Linked DNA regions of Homo sapiens. The main gene of each other region encodes a partner of the protein of the gene in region 2 in a complex. Each region holds a gene or a part of one and is shown on either strand. Other genes may lie near its edges.

The links.
Region 1: the proteins of ARHGAP1 (region 2) and CDC42 are in contact, whole or in part, in a crystal structure (PDB 1GRN), measured with the Homo sapiens proteins. Residues at the interface, in NP_004299.1 of Homo sapiens: Glu278, Gly279, Phe281, Arg282, Arg283, Ser284, Ala285, Asn286, Thr287, Gln288, Asn309, Glu310, Val316, Lys319, Arg323, Asn385, Lys386, Met387, Asn391, Val394, Val395, Pro398, Asn399, Trp402, Ala403, Lys404, Ala406, Ala407, Thr409, Leu410; in NP_001034891.1 of Homo sapiens: Asp11, Gly12, Ala13, Tyr32, Val33, Pro34, Val36, Phe37, Gly60, Gln61, Glu62, Asp63, Tyr64, Arg66, Leu67, Leu70, Ser88, Glu91, Asn92, Glu95, Lys96, Asn132.

What each region holds. Positions count from the first base shown.
Region 1 is NC_000001.11:22,048,468-22,055,708, reverse strand, and holds the start of CDC42 (cell division control protein 42 homolog isoform 1 precursor), read right to left. Parts: upstream 3,001-7,241; 5' UTR 2,967-3,000; intron 1-2,966. UniProt on the Homo sapiens protein: Plasma membrane-associated small GTPase which cycles between an active GTP-bound and an inactive GDP-bound state. In active state binds to a variety of effector proteins to regulate cellular responses. Involved in epithelial cell polarization processes.
Region 2 is NC_000011.10:46,697,329-46,705,466, forward strand, and holds the start of ARHGAP1 (rho GTPase-activating protein 1), read right to left. Parts: upstream 3,292-8,138; 5' UTR 3,223-3,291; intron 1-3,222. Other genes in the region: ZNF408 (zinc finger protein 408), read left to right, coding at 3,720-3,771, 4,071-4,348, 5,376-5,437, 5,656-5,915, 7,025-8,138. UniProt on the Homo sapiens protein: GTPase activator for the Rho, Rac and Cdc42 proteins, converting them to the putatively inactive GDP-bound state. Cdc42 seems to be the preferred substrate.

The DNA.
Region 1 (7,241 bases), on a different chromosome or scaffold from region 2:
CAGATCAGCCTGGACAACATGAGGAAACCCGATCTCTACAAAAGATACCAAAATTAGCCGGGTCTGGTTGCATGCACCGTAGTCCCAGCTACTGCAGAGGCTGAGGTGGAAGGATCAGTTGAGCCTGGGAGGCCGAGGCTGCAGTGAGCTGTGATCACACCACTGCACTCTAGCCTGGGCGACAGAGTAAGACCCTGTCTCCAAAAAAAAAAAAAAAATCACCAATTTTTTTTTTAACTCCCTATACTACTCTAGGCTATAACATCTGCCTTAGATTCCCAAAAAATTAAGTTTAATACGGACAGGTATTGGTTGTAACATGAAAACATTTTAAGAGTATAAACAGAGGATGTGATACCTTTCTGGTCTTGAAGAAATTACTGAAAACGAGCTCATTCAATACTTAGTTGATTACCAAACTCTTATCTCCATCTCAGTATAAAAACTATAAATTCAGGCCGGGCACGGTGGCTCACGCCTGTAATCTCAGCACTTTGCGGGGACGAGGCGGGCGGATCACGAGGTCAGGAGATCAAGACTATCCTGGCTAACACCGTGAAACCCCGTCTCTACTAAAAATACAAAAAATTAGCCGGGCGTGGTGGCGGGCGCCTGTAGTCCCAGCTGTTCGGGAGGCTGAGGCAGGAGAATGGTGTGAACCTGGGAGGCGGAGCTTGCAGTGAGCTGAGATTGCGCCACTGCACTCCAGCCTGGGAGACAGAGCGAGACTCCTTCTCAAAAAAAAAAAAAAAAAAAAAAAAAAAAAAAAAAAAAAAAAAAAAAAAAATATATATATATATATATATATATATATATACATAAATTCAAACTACTGTTACTTTCTAAAAGGAAAGATACAAATTGATATTATTTAAAATTATTAAAAATAGAAAGCTCAAGAAAATAAGGCAGATGTGTTCCAATTTTATATGCCTAAAATATTACATCAAGGCTAACAAATGTATTTCAGAAGATTCAAGTTCCACACCTATCCAATGGTCTGTAATGCCTACACACTACAGAAAGCTGCCTTGAACCTACACTCCTTTTAAGTGTTTACCAATCTGTTCTCTATAGAAATGAGAAACAGTGGGAAAGCACTTGTTTCGACATGAATTATCTTTACAACAATGCATTACACAATTGGATCTCATTTGCTTTACAGAGTCAACATTTTTGTGTGATACTATTGCAGTCGCGGAAGGATACAAAATTTAGAATGTAAACACCCTAGGGAACAAAAATTGTGATCTCTGCTTGACCCCAGGAGTCCGAGACCAGCCTGGGCAACATGGCGAAACCCTGTCTGTACAAAAAATACAAAAATTAGCGGGGCATGGTGGTACATGCCTGCAGTACCAGCTACTCGGGAGGCTGAGGTGGGAGGCTCACTTGACCCCGGGAGGCGGAGGCTGCGGTGGGCCAAGATCGCGCCACTGCACTGCAGCCTGGGAGTGCAATATCCATTATATTTAGTAACGTCTTTGAGACCCTGTCTCAAAAAAAATAAAAATTGTGATCTCAAAATTATGAAAATATTAAGTTTTTTGCTTAAAGATCGAAGTCTCGTTTTTAATAACAAAACTAAAATGTCTAGCATAGATCAGGCATAAACTGATCCTCTTTTCAACACAACTTCACCACAAAAAGTGCACTTGAATCAACCTAGGGAGATTCCCAGCATGCAGTAAGTCATAAAGGAGAATAAACAGTCTGGGAAAGTCATTTTGGACCGAAAAGTGTTCCCACAAATAAACCCACCTCATTCTAGTATAGTCAAAGGGACCTCTATTTAAAGTTAATGCCACGCAAGGGGCCGTGGACGGTGTTGTCTTACACTTTATTCCCTGACACAAACTAATCCTGGGATTTTAAACCTTCCTAGCTTTTAGGTGCACTGAAGGCGGTCATGAACACAAGTAACAAGCTTTCAAAACATCATCTGTGAATACGACGTGTTGGGAAGCAGGCAGGATAAGCCACTGGGTGACCGACTAAGGCTGCAAAATGCTGTTTGAATTTAAGTCCCTGACTTGTAGGAGTTAAGTCTCACTCCTTATACCGCGATGACGTAATCTTCCACACTACATTTATCTTGGACTTAAAGGGGAGGAAAAACAAACGAACAAAGAAAATTCCCCCCCGATAAGAGGAATTAACCAAGCAGCAGAACGACGGCTTCGGGAGGTAGTTAGGTAACTCCCCGAAAGGGAAGCTTCAGCTAAACCGGCAGGGAGCGGGCTGGAGGAGCGGATGGAAATGCTAGGAACTCGACCTCCGAAAGGAAGAGCAGCCTGGAGGCCGTGGCTCGGGGCCACCCCGCCCAGAGGACGCGGCCGGCGCGGAGGGGAGCTCGGACAGGCACCGCCGCGAGCAGCCAGCGAGCTGCCCTCCTGCCACCGCCCCGCCGCGGCCGCAACGCCACTCCCCTCCCCCGCCCCCCCACCCCCGCCGCAAAATGTCCGCGGCGGCGCCCGGCGAAGCAGGAAGTCCAGGCCGGAGCGCAGGGCACGGAACGCAGCCTGCCAGCACGGAAGACCGGCGCCCGGCCCGGCCCAAGCGCCCGCGAGTCGCTCTGAGGCCCCCGGCCGCCCTTAGGAGCCCGCCGGGCCGGGCTGGGGGGAGGGGAGCCCGGGCGCCCAGGATGGGTGTGACCCCCTTCCTTCCGCCGCTGCCGGTGACAGCCCGGTCCCGCTCGCGCCCCGAGCCCCGGCCGCGCGCCCCTCCTCAGACGGGCGCCCCCTGCCTCCCCGGCCGCGACCCCCGCCCCGGCTCCCCCACAGAACGCGGACCCGCGCCCGCCCGGAGGACGCAGCGCGAGCCGGGCACTCCCCCACAACCCGTGCTCCCGGGCCCCCCACGATCCCGCAGACGGGGTGTCCCCGAGGACTGGGAGAGGACGGAGACGGCGGGGATGGGAAGGTAGGGTGGCAGCTCCCGCGGGGAACCTCGGGCCCCGCACTCACCTCAGCTTCTCCACCGGGGCGTTGGCAGCACTGCGCGGGGTCTCCTCGGCTGCCGGACAGGGGCACGCACCTGACGTCAGCGCGCAGGAGACGCACAGTTGGGTGCCCGCGGAAGTGGGAGGAACAGGGAAGGGGAAGAGGCTGGGGCGGGTCAAGGCGGTGCCTGGACTGCCCTGGCTCCGCCCGCCTGTCGCGCACGCGCGGGCCGGCGCAGCTCGTGAGTTCGGGGCTATGCTCTGCATGTTTTCCTAATGGTTGTATTTGTAATAATACTGTGAACGATAGTATGCAAAGCGCTTCCTCTACCAGTTCTTTTTTGTTTGTTTTTTCTGAGACAGTCTTGATCTGTTGCCCAGACTGGAGTGCAGCGCGCGATCTCAGCTCACTGCAACCTCCACCCCTTGGGTTCAAGCGATCCTCCTGCCTCTGCCTCCCGAGTAGCTGGGATCACTGGCACCTGCCACCACGCCAGGCTAATGTTTGTATTTTTAGCAGACACGGGGTTTCACCATTTTGCCCAGGCTGGTCTCGAACCCGTGACCTCAAGTAAGTGATCCACCTGCCTCGACCTCCCAAAGTGCTGGGATTACGGGCGTGAACCACCGCGCCCGGCCCACTACCAGTTCTTTTGATCCTTGCAAGCTTGTGAAGCAAGGTATTGTCCCATTTTGCAGAGAAGACGGAAGCTTCTCTGAAAGGGCTGGTGACTTGCCCCAGATCACAGGGGTGGATGGTCTCTCACTCCCCGGGCCTGTATTCAGTCCGCCGTGATGTGAGAACTGAGTATCACTCTTCTTATCTCTACCTACACCCAGTGTCCCTCGCTGTAGCCACATGGGTCTTTTTTAGAGTTACAACCTTCCCCCAACCACAGGCCTTGTGTTTTTGTTGTTGTTGTTGTTGTTGTTGTTGTTGTTTTTTCTTTGAGACGTTCTTGCTCTGTCACCCAGGCAGGAGTGCAGTGGCACGATCTCAGCTCACTGCAATCTCGACGTCCCGGCGATTCTCCCACCTCAGCCTCCCAAGTAGCTGGGACCACAGGCGCATGCCACCATGCCTGGCTAATTTTTGTATTTTTTTGTAGACACAGGGTTTTGCTGGATTGCCCAGGCTGGTCTCGAACTCCTGGACACAAGCTATCAGCCTGCCTCAGCCTCCCAAACTGCTGGGATTACAAGGTGTGAGACATTACGTCTGGCCAAGGCCTTGAATTTCTTTGCTCTGCCTCCCTCCTCTTCCCCCAAATTTATATCACTGCATTCTTCAATCATCCTATCTTCGCAGTATCTATTATTTGTCTTCTCTGCTAGTATGAAAGCTTCAGGAAAATAGAGAACTTCCCTCTCTTATTCTTAGATGTTTCCCCATGTTAGAGAAAAATCGCTTAAATTGCTTATCCTAGGCCGGGCACGGTGGCTCATGCCTGTAATCGCAGCACTTTGGGAGGCCAAGGCGGGCGGATCACGAGGTCAGGAGATCGAGACCATCCTGGCTAACACGGTGAAACCCCGCCTCTACTAAAAATACAAAAAAATTAGCCGGGCGTGGTGGCGAGCTCCTGTAGTCATAGCTACTCGAGAGGCTGAGGCAGGAGAATGGCGTGAACCCGGGAGGCGGAGCTTGCAGTGAGCCAAGATCGCGCCACTGCACTCCAGCCTGGGCAACAGAGCGAGACTCTGTCTCAAAAAAAATAAAAAAAAATTGCTTATCTTAATAACAGCTCATTTATTGTCTACTGCCACAGCTATTTGGCCAACAAAGACACTTAATTCCAGTATATTGACTTATAGTCATATTTTCTTTTGGATTTTTTTTTTTTTTTTGAGACGGAGTCTCGCTCTGTCACCCAGGCTGGAATGCAGTGGTTCGATCTCGGCTCACTGCAATCTCCGCCTCCCGGGTTCAAGCAATTCTCCTGCCTCAGCCTCCCAAGTGGCTGAGACTACAGGTGCCCACCACCATGCCCAGCTAATTTTTGTATTTTTAGTAGAGACGGGGTTTCACCATATTGGCCAAGCTGGTCTTGAACTCATGACTTTGTGATCCACCTGCCTTGGCCTCCCAAAGGGCTGCGATTACAGGTGTAAGCCACCGCACCCAGCCCTCTTTTGGATTTTTTAATTACCCAAAAATAAGAACTACATTTTTTAGTGTTTACTGCAGGTATGGCTAATAGCTTTGCAGGTAGTAGTAGCTAATTTAATACTCACAGCCACCCTATGAGTTAAGAACTGTTACCCCCACTTTATGGTTACATGAACTGAAGCTCAGAGGTGTTAAGAGACTTGTCCATAGCCGCCATGCCAAGCAGTGGCAGAGCTGAGACTTGCACTCAGGAGGCTGGCTCTAGTTGACTATGACACTACCACACTATCAAGCAGGTTTATTATAGAGAAATTAGAAGATAAGCTTCAGGCCAGGCACAGTGGCTCACATCTGTAATCCCAGCACTTTGTGAGGCTGAGGCTGGTGGATCACCTGAGGTCAGGAGTTGAAGACCAGCCTGACCAACATGGTAAAACCCCATCTGTACTAAAAAACACACACACAAAAATTTGCTCGGTGTGGTGGCAGGTGCCTGTAATCCCAGCTACTTGGGAGGCTGAGGCAGGAGAATCATTTGAATCCAGGAGGCGGAGGTTGCAGTGACCCCGAGATCATGCCATTGCACTCCAGCCTAGGCGACAAAAAAGTGAAACTCTGTCTCAAAAAAAAAAAAAAAAAAAAGCCAGGTGCGGTGGCTCACGCCTGTAATTCCAGCACTCCGGGAGGCCGAGGTGGGCGGATCACTTGAGGTCAGGAGTTCAAGACTAGCCTGACCAACATGGTGAAACCCTTTCTCTACTAAAAATACAAAAATTAGCTGGGTGTGGCATGCACTTGTATTCGCAGCTACTCGGGAGGCTGAGACAGGAGAATCGCTGGAACCTGGGAGGCAGAGGTTGCAGTGAGCCGAGATTGCGCCATTGCACTCTAGCCTGGGCAACAAGAACAAAACCCCACCTAAAAAAAAAAAACAGGAAGATAAGCTTCAGCTGTAGTCCTACCTCTAATGTGGCTCACACCTATAATCCTAACACTTTGGGAGGCCGAGGCGGGTGGATCACTTGAGCCCAGGAGTTCAAGACCAGTCTGGGCAACATAGCAAGACCTGCCCCCACCCATCTCTACAAAAAATACAAAAACAAAACAAAACAAAAAAACTACATTGTGAACATCTTTCCATGTCAAATAAAGCATCATTTGTAAAGGCTGCATTTTACTCTCCGGGCATTGCAATATTTACCCAGACTCCTACTGTTGGAATTTGGGTTGTTTTGGGCTATTGTGAATTTATTACTATTGTAAAAATGCATAAGCTTCATTTTTTAAACTTGAGGGGAAAATGGTTGTTTCTTCCCTTCACAAGTCCAGCTGGCAGTGCCCTTTCCTTCATCCTGTCTCACAATCCCATGAATGTCCCCAGACAACGTCTGCCCTTTCCAGTAGCAGCAATATCTTGATGGGGTGTCACCCAACTGTTCAGCTTTTCCTGCCTTTATTCTGAGGACAAGGACTTACTTAGCACTATGTCTTTTATGTTGTCAGGTTTTTTGTCAGAAGAACCCTCCTAGACCTTTTCACAGCCCCAAACAGCAGTGGCAATGGTGTTACTATTACTTGACCCAATCTACCATGTCCCTCACTGCTGGCCCAGCCCCCAGCCTCCTAGTGCCTCCCCGCTACTGCCCCACTGCTATAGCTGCCTCATGTTAACAGGAGGGACAGCCTGTGGGACTCCGGCTCCCTTCCCGGTGGCTACCATTCCGGTGTCCATTCTTCCTTCTGGTAACAGCACTTCCATTTCTCCTAGAGCAGCCCCTGCCCCAACTCTCAATCCATGTGGCTCTAGAGATGACACTATCTCTAGTTGCGGGAATGGACACGTGACCCAGGCTTGGCCAATCACAGCATTATAGAGAGCCCTGTTGCCACACCATTTCAGCAACAGGCATGTGACCCAATGAGATTTAATTCTGGAACTTTGGTCACAACTATTCAGTTCAGTGAATCTCTGTTTGCTGAGAGTAGGATGTAATCGTGGCACTGCTGGCAGCCAGCTTCCCACTGCAAGCAGAGATGCTGCCTGAGAATGAGACCAAGACAGAGGGGGAAACAGAACTGAGAGATGGAGACATGAAACCAAGTCCCAGTGGCATTGCATGAGACATCAGATCCAGTCTTGCTTCAATCTTCAGTCACATTAGCAATAAATTCCCTCTATTGCCTGAACGA
Region 2 (8,138 bases):
TAGTTCAACCTATTCAGTCTAACCCCAGGGAAGAGGCTGCTCCATGTCCAGCTGCATTCCTGGAGCCCCAAAACTGACATATATGGTCAGAGAATCAGCAGGGCAGATAAGGAGAGCAGACAAGCCCTGGGGGTGGGCAGGAAGAAGAGGGGGAGAGCTGCCATCCCAGAGCCACAGACTCTGGGCTCTGAGGCCACTTGACAACCTCCTGCACACATCACATCACAGCCAAGGGCCCTGGATGGTGAGCCCTCTCCCTGTGCCTAGCAACAGCCACCCTATCACCAGGGCAACCACACGGATTGAGTGGTAACGCTGTTTCATGCTCCCAAGCCAAAGCCAACCAGCGAAAACAGCCCAAAAAAACCCTCTTCTTCCTCTCCCTGTCCCCTGTCCTCATCCACTACCCCTGGTTACCACCAAAATATAATCCCTTCCCAAGAACACAGAGAAGAATGATCCCTCACGGTCAGGAATGCATTTCTCTGAGTGATGCCAAAGCCCAGCTCCCTCACTCCCCTTCAGCCTTCAACCCTTCAACCCTTCAACCCTTCAATATCTACATGTGCTTCCTGCCATCCAGCCAGGAGGCTGTGGGAGCTGCTCCCCATAGCGACCTCCAGCTGGGTAATAAAGACAGAATCCAGCTCAAAGCAACCCCCTCCAGGCCAGAGCCTTCTCTCTACCCTTTCTATTCAGCCTGTCACTGCCCAGGGACCAGGGGCTCCTTCAGCCCCACCTACAGCTATCCCAGAGACATCTTTCTGCACAAAGTAGGTGCTGATGCCATGAAATGATGAGGTAGTATGGAGAGCTGGATTATCATCCTGCCTAAGCCAGTGAGCTGCAAAGATGCTGAGCAAGTCCTTTTCCTACTTGGGCCTAAATTTCCTCCTCTGTAGAGGCAATGGCGCCTCCCAGAAATATAATTCTCCAGTGTTCAGAAATACTTTGTGCTGCAGTGAACAACAGGATTAGAAGGAGCAGCCGGGGCCGGGCACGGTGGCTCATGCCTGTAATCCTAGCACTTTGGGAGCCCAAGGTGGGTGGGTCACCAGAGGTCAGGAGTTCAAGACCAGCCTTGCCAACATGGTGAAACCCCATCTCTACTAAAAGTACAAAAAAAAAAAATAGCCAGGCATGGTGGTGGGTGCCTGTAATCCCAGCTACTCAGGTGGCTGAGGCAGGAGAATCACTTGAACCCAGGGGGTGGAGGTTGCAGTGAGCTGAGATCAAGCTACTTCACTCCAGCCTGGGCAAAAGAGCAAAACTCTGTTTCAAAAAAAAAAAAAAAAGGAGCAGCTGGGAGCTGGGGTGGATGTGAAGGAGGGAGAAGGACACCATCTAAAAGGGAGCTGAACTTGAACTTCACCTCTTTTCCAGTGACTGCTCTTCTATGCTGTCAGTTCTTCCAGACATGACCTCCCTCAACGCCCCCACATAACCTCCTTTCCCAGCATAACTAAGCCCAGTGGTTCCCATCTCCCAGTCAGACTGGCCCCTCCCACTACCCCCAACCCACAGTTTAACTTCTGAGCCTGGAAGTTAAACTCCCATTCAGTGGGAGGGTGAGGAAGCTAGCACAGGGAAATTCTAACATCAAGTAGTAGAAATGAAGTATCCTGCCTGTTTAAGACACCAGCCACCCACAAGCCTGCTCTACTCTGTGCAAAATACACCCAACTCTGAGATTAATTTTTCCATTCTCAGCAGGTAAACCTTTACAAAAATCTTAAGGATCACCTTAGGCAATCACTTTTAGGAAGTTGTAGACTTTTCTGAAATTGGTAACATGTGTGGACTTTTTCCCTAAGAAAACTTAGGAGATGTATGCAATTTTAAGAGGTTCATACACCTTCTGAGAATCACTGTTTAAGAACTTCTGGTCTATTCAGAATGACACCTGATATATAGTAGATGCTATCATTTGTTGAATGAATGAACCAATTAATTCATCTCCTAAGTAAAGAAGGGAACCCACACTTGTTGAGGGCCTATATAGGACCATGAACTGGGGACACAAACTCAACCTCACGATAGCACTGATGAGGCATGTTCTACTAAGCTCATTTTACAGTGAGGAAAGAGAGGACCAGCCGGGCACGGTGGTTCACGGCTGTAATCCCAGCACTTTGGGAGGCCGAGGCGGGCGGATCACAAGGTCAGGATTTGGAGACCAACCTGGCCAAGATGGTGAAACCCCATCTCTACTAAAAATACAAAAATTAGCCGGGTGTGGTGGCGCGCGCCTGTACTCCCAGCTACCTGGGAGGCTGAGGCAGAAGAATCGCTTGAACCCGGGAGGCGGAGGTTGCAGTGAGCCGAGATCACGCCACTGCACTCCAGCCTGGGCGACAGAGTGAGACTCCGTCTAAAAAAAAAAAAAGAAAAGAAATCATATTCTCAACGTTGGAATCGGCCTCCCAGTTGCAAATCCCACCACAATACAACAGCAATTACAACTCTCAACTACAATTATGTTTGCATAGAGCTTCACGGTTTACAAAGCCCAGGTTACGTTTTGCAATTATCCTGTTTCACAGATTAAGAAGTTGAACTGAGGCCGGGCGCAGTGGCTCACGTCTATAATCCCAGCACTTTGGGAGGCGGGGGCGGGAGGATCACGAGGTCAGGAGTTCGAGACCAGCCTGGCCAACATGGTGAAACCCTGTCTCTACTAAAAATACAAAAATTAGCCGGGCGTGGTGGCGGACGCCTGTAATCCCAGCTACTCAGGAGGCTGAGGCAGGAGAATCGCTTGAATCCGGGAGGCGGAGGTTGCAGTGAACCGAGACTCCAGCCTGGGCAATAAGAGTGAAACTCCGTCTTAAAAAAATAAATAAGTTGAACTGAAAGCGTGGCCTAATAAGTGGCAAGGAGGAACACTTCCCCCAAATTTCTTCTTCTTAGTGCTTTGCCAGATCAGATCTGGGAGATTTCCCCCTCCCGCCGGCTTGCTGGATGACAGCGATCCGGCCTGGACTCTGCCCTGGGGAAGGCAGGAAGAAGGTAGTGAAAATGATTAAGTCCTCTTATTGCAGGCGCCAAAATGGGGCAGAAACCCTGCAGGAAGGCCAGGCCTCTGAGCCCAGTTCCACCCCCGTTCCCCTCCTCGGATCTGCTCCGGTCCTCCCCATCCGGACCCCATCCCTTCGGACGACCTGGCCAGCTCCTTTCCTTTCCCCATCCCCACCCGGGGAGACCCCGCGCCCAGCAGCTCACCGCGCTCGGGCACTGCTCCCTCTGCCACGCCTGTCAAGGCTCGGCAAACATCCGGCTCCGCGGTGGAACGGGAACCGCCCCCTCCCGCTCTCTTCTATCCCCAACCATTTCCGCCACACCTCCAACCCACTTCCGGCCCCAAACATGGCCTTTCCAGGAGCCCCGCCCACTTCCTGCACATGCCCGCCTAAGTTCCTGCCTCGGGGAGGTAACAGCATAACTGTCCGACTCGTCGCTCCCAAAGAGATGGCTGGAACAATTAGTTCCGCTTTCCCAGCTAGTCGAATCACTGGTGCACCTCCGGAATCCGAGGTTCGCATTGCTCTCGGACAGAGTTCTGCCTCCCCAGTACTCCCAAACTCCCAGTCCTGTGCACCAATGAGGTCCAGCTCTGAGGCTTCTTTCCTGAGAAAAAAATTTGGAAGTCCGTGACTGTTTCCTGGAGGAGCTGAGAAGAGGAAGCTCACTTCCGGCGTAGGGAGGCTTTCTGACCCGGAATGGAGGAGGCGGAGGAGCTGCTCTTGGAGGGGAAGAAGGCGCTGCAACTCGGTGAGTGACCTGCGATGTCCGCGACCCTCAACCTTGGCCCAGGTGGATCTGACGCTCTGTGGTCAGCTTTCTCCTCAGTCTTCTCTCCTCCGGATCCCAGGATCCTCCAGTGCCCTCAGAGTCGCTGGGGGCTTCTGAAGAGCCCTTGAGCCTCCTCAAAACTTTCAGGGCCCTCCTTAGAGCCCTCACCTGTCCCTCGGGCTCCGCAGGCCCACCTGGACCTGCGGTTTCCTCCCACACTTTTCCCCACCTCCCACCTTCTTGGGTGGCTCCCTCACTGTCTTCCCTTCTCTCTGCAGCCCGCGAGCCGCGCCTGGGCCTGGACTTAGGATGGAACCCTTCCGGAGAAGGCTGTACGCAGGGCCTCAAAGACGTCCCACCCGAGCCGACCCGAGACATCCTCGCTTTAAAGAGCCTTCCCCGGGGCTTGGCCCTTGGCCCCTCACTCGCCAAGGAACAGCGCTTGGGGGTCTGGTGTGTCGGGGACCCCCTGCAGCCCGGCCTGCTGTGGGGGCCGCTGGAAGAGGAGTCTGCCTCCAAGGAGAAGGGCGAGGGAGTAAAGCCACGGCAGGAGGAGGTATTGAAGGATAGAGCGACTTCCCTCCGCCCTTGAAAATGTAGGGGAGGTTTGGACATTGCTAGACAGCTTTTCAATTTGAAGAAAGAGAGTATTTCAAGAGATAGGAGATAGTCTTGTCCCTTCTCTTCAGGACTGTCTCCTCTCAGCAGCAGTAGTTAAAGAATCGAGGTTTGAAAAGTTGTTGAAAGCTGGAATCATACAGTGTCAGCAGTGAGTGAGGAAGGTCAAGAGCTAAGGTTTTTGGAATTAAGAAAGCATGGGATCAAATTCCAGCTTTGTCACCTAGCTGGTTAAATTACGTGCCGCATTTAATTCATCTGTGAAACAAAGCAGTGGCTCTCTTGGGATTATATGGAGGAGCTGATGAAATAGTGAAGATAAAAGGTTTCACTGCACAATAAGTACCATTTTATTTTATTTATTTTTCTTTTTTCTTAGACAGTCTTGCTTTGTCGCCCAGGCTGGAGTGCAGTGGCACGATCTCGCCTTATTGCAACCTCCACTTCCCAGGTTCAAGTGATTCTCATGCCTCAGCCTCCCGAGTAGCTGGGATTACAGATGTGCACCACCACACCCAGCTAATTTTTGTATTTTTAGTAGAGACAGGGTTTCACCATGTTGGTGAGGCTGGTCTCAAACTCCTGGCCTCAAGTAATCCGCCTGCCTGGGCCTCCCAAAGTGCTGAGATTACAGGTGTGAGCCCCCGCGCCTGGCCCAATAAATACCATTTTAAAAAGCTGGTGTTCCTTATTACTTTTTCTGTTTAGTACTCACTGGAAGACAGTAATGTGTTCAATTTAGTAATTCTCCATACCCTTGGGAGGGAGGTGAGGAGACAGACTTTTTGGTCCTTACTGAATGAAGAATCAGACAGCACTGTCCTGTTAGAGGAGAACCAGAGGCTTCTAACCTTCCAGGAGTTTCATCTTAAATTTGTCCCAGGAAAGTTTCATCTAGTTTCTTTTTTTATTCCTACCCGACCCCTCGAACACATTTGAGAAGGACTTTTGTTGGTTTATTTCAGAACCTGTCATTAGGCCCATGGGGAGACGTGTGTGCCTGTGAGCAGAGTTCTGGCTGGACTAGGTAAGTCAGAGGAGAGTGTGTCGTTCCTTTGAGGTTTTCTGTTGTGGTTTGGGATGGAACCCGGTGCTGACTGTCATTTCCTATTCAGTGCTCTTTTGCAGTGAATGTTCCAAAGGCACGGCGTCCTTTAGGACCCAGACTGCTTGGGGACTGGGGCTTTCGGGGAAGACCACTTGAATAGTGAGCATCTCCTAGCTGGCTGTTACTTTGCTTTGCAGCTTGGTACAACGGGGCAGGCTGGAGAGTGAGGGAAATGTGGCCCCAGTGCGGATCAGCGAGAGGCTTCATCTGCAAGTGTACCAGCTGGTGCTGCCAGGCTCTGAACTGCTGCTGTGGCCCCAGCCTTCCTCTGAGGGCCCAAGTCTCACCCAGCCTGGGCTGGACAAAGAGGCAGCTGTAGCAGTGGTGACAGAAGTGGAGTCTGCTGTACAGCAGGAAGTGGCCTCCCCTGGGGAGGATGCAGCAGAACCTTGCATAGGTATGTGTCAAATAAATGCTGGTTTCCCAGCAATTTCCCCACCAAAACAACCTGTTGATAAGACAAAGCAGAGTTTATGGCTCATTGCGGTAAGGAAGGACACTATAGAGTCTTAGTAGCTTTTCAAAATCTGTTTTAAGGTGGATCTTTCAACATGGGATAGGAGGGTGGGGCTTGATTAGTATTGGGTAAGGATTATGACTGAATAGCTTAGGGTTGGTACATACAGCAAGGCTAGAATTTTCAGGCAAGGGACAGTCTCAGACTATGAATTGTCATTCATTGCTTTCTGTTGAAGAGCGACGGGTCTGTTCTTTGGAATAACAATATAGATATTTGCAACTTTTACCTTCCTAAGAGCTTCCTGGAATAGTAAGAAAGAGAGTAAGCTTTGTATGTACACGGTTTCCAGCCTCCCATGTTTCTTCTCTCTGGCGTGGGGGTTCTTTTATATTACAGATGAGCTAAGGTGGGAAGGGGTTTTTTTGTTTTGTTTTGTTTTGTTGTTGTTGTTGTTGTTGTTGTTGTTTTTTTTTTTTTTTGAGATGGAGTCTCACTCTGTCGCCCAGGCTGGAGTGCAATGGCGTGGTCTCAGCTCGCTGCAACCTCTGCCTCCCAGGTTCAGGTGATTCTCCTGCCTCAGCCTCAGCTAATTTTTTTGCATTTTTAGTAGAGATGGGGTTTCACCATGTCAGCCAGGCTGGTCTCGAACTCCTGGCCTCAAGTGATCTGCCTGTCTCTGCCTCCCAAGATGCTAGGCTTAACAGGTGTGAGCCACCGTGCCCGGCTGGAAGGGGTCTTGAATCACATCCTAAATATGTGTCTCCAGGGGCGAACAAGGGGATTCTCCATCTGGGATGGCCTTATTCTAGTGATTATCCAGATGGCTGGGACCCCATGGCTCTCAGGAGTGCTTCTCCAAAAGGCGCTTAAGGCTGGACAGGAAGATAAATGGAGTGTGCACCCCATGCTCCAGGGAAGAGATTGGTATCATTGCTCCCTCTAAGGCTCAGGGGCTGGGTGGGAGAAAACATCTGATCCTGTAATTCCCTGGTAACACCATCTGCATTGAAGCTCCCTAAACCCAGTACCCCATCCTTGCCTTGCAGATCCTGGTTCCCAGTCACCCTCTGGCATCCAGGCAGAGAATATGGTGAGCCCTGGACTTAAGTTCCCAACCCAGGACCGAATTTCCAAGGATAGCCAGCCACTTGGCCCATTGCTTCAGGATGGCGACGTGGATGAGGAATGCCCGGCCCAGGCACAGATGCCACCTGAACTTCAGAGCAATTCGGCTACCCAGCAGGACCCAGATGGCAGTGGAGCCAGTTTCTCATCTTCTGCCAGGGGCACCCAGCCGCATGGCTACCTGGCCAAGAAGTTACACAGCCCCAGTGATCAGTGCCCACCCAGAGCAAAGACCCCAGAGCCTGGAGCCCAGCAGTCTGGCTTCCCTACACTCTCGCGGAGCCCTCCTGGCCCAGCAGGAAGCTCCCCAAAGCAGGGGCGACGGTACCGGTGTGGAGAGTGTGGCAAGGCATTCCTACAGCTGTGCCACCTAAAGAAGCACGCATTTGTGCACACGGGCCACAAGCCCTTTCTTTGCACTGAGTGTGGCAAGAGCTATAGCTCAGAGGAGAGCTTCAAAGCCCATATGCTGGGCCACCGTGGGGTGCGGCCCTTCCCCTGTCCACAATGCGACAAGGCCTATGGCACCCAGCGAGACCTCAAAGAGCACCAGGTGGTACATTCAGGTGCCCGGCCCTTTGCTTGTGACCAGTGTGGCAAGGCCTTTGCCCGCCGGCCCTCCCTGCGGCTGCATCGCAAGACCCACCAGGTGCCAGCTGCCCCTGCCCCTTGCCCATGCCCTGTGTGTGGGCGGCCCCTGGCCAACCAGGGCTCCCTGCGGAACCATATGAGGCTCCATACAGGAGAAAAGCCTTTCCTGTGCCCGCACTGTGGCCGGGCGTTTCGTCAGCGGGGCAACCTGCGTGGGCATTTGCGGCTCCACACCGGGGAGCGTCCTTACCGCTGCCCACACTGTGCCGATGCCTTCCCCCAGCTGCCTGAACTGCGGCGCCATCTCATCTCACACACCGGGGAGGCCCACTTGTGCCCGGTGTGTGGCAAGGCCCTCCGAGACCCACACACGCTCCGAGCTCACGAGCGCCTGCACTCCGGAGAGAGGCCCTTTCCCTGTCCCCAGTGTGGCCGTGCTTACAC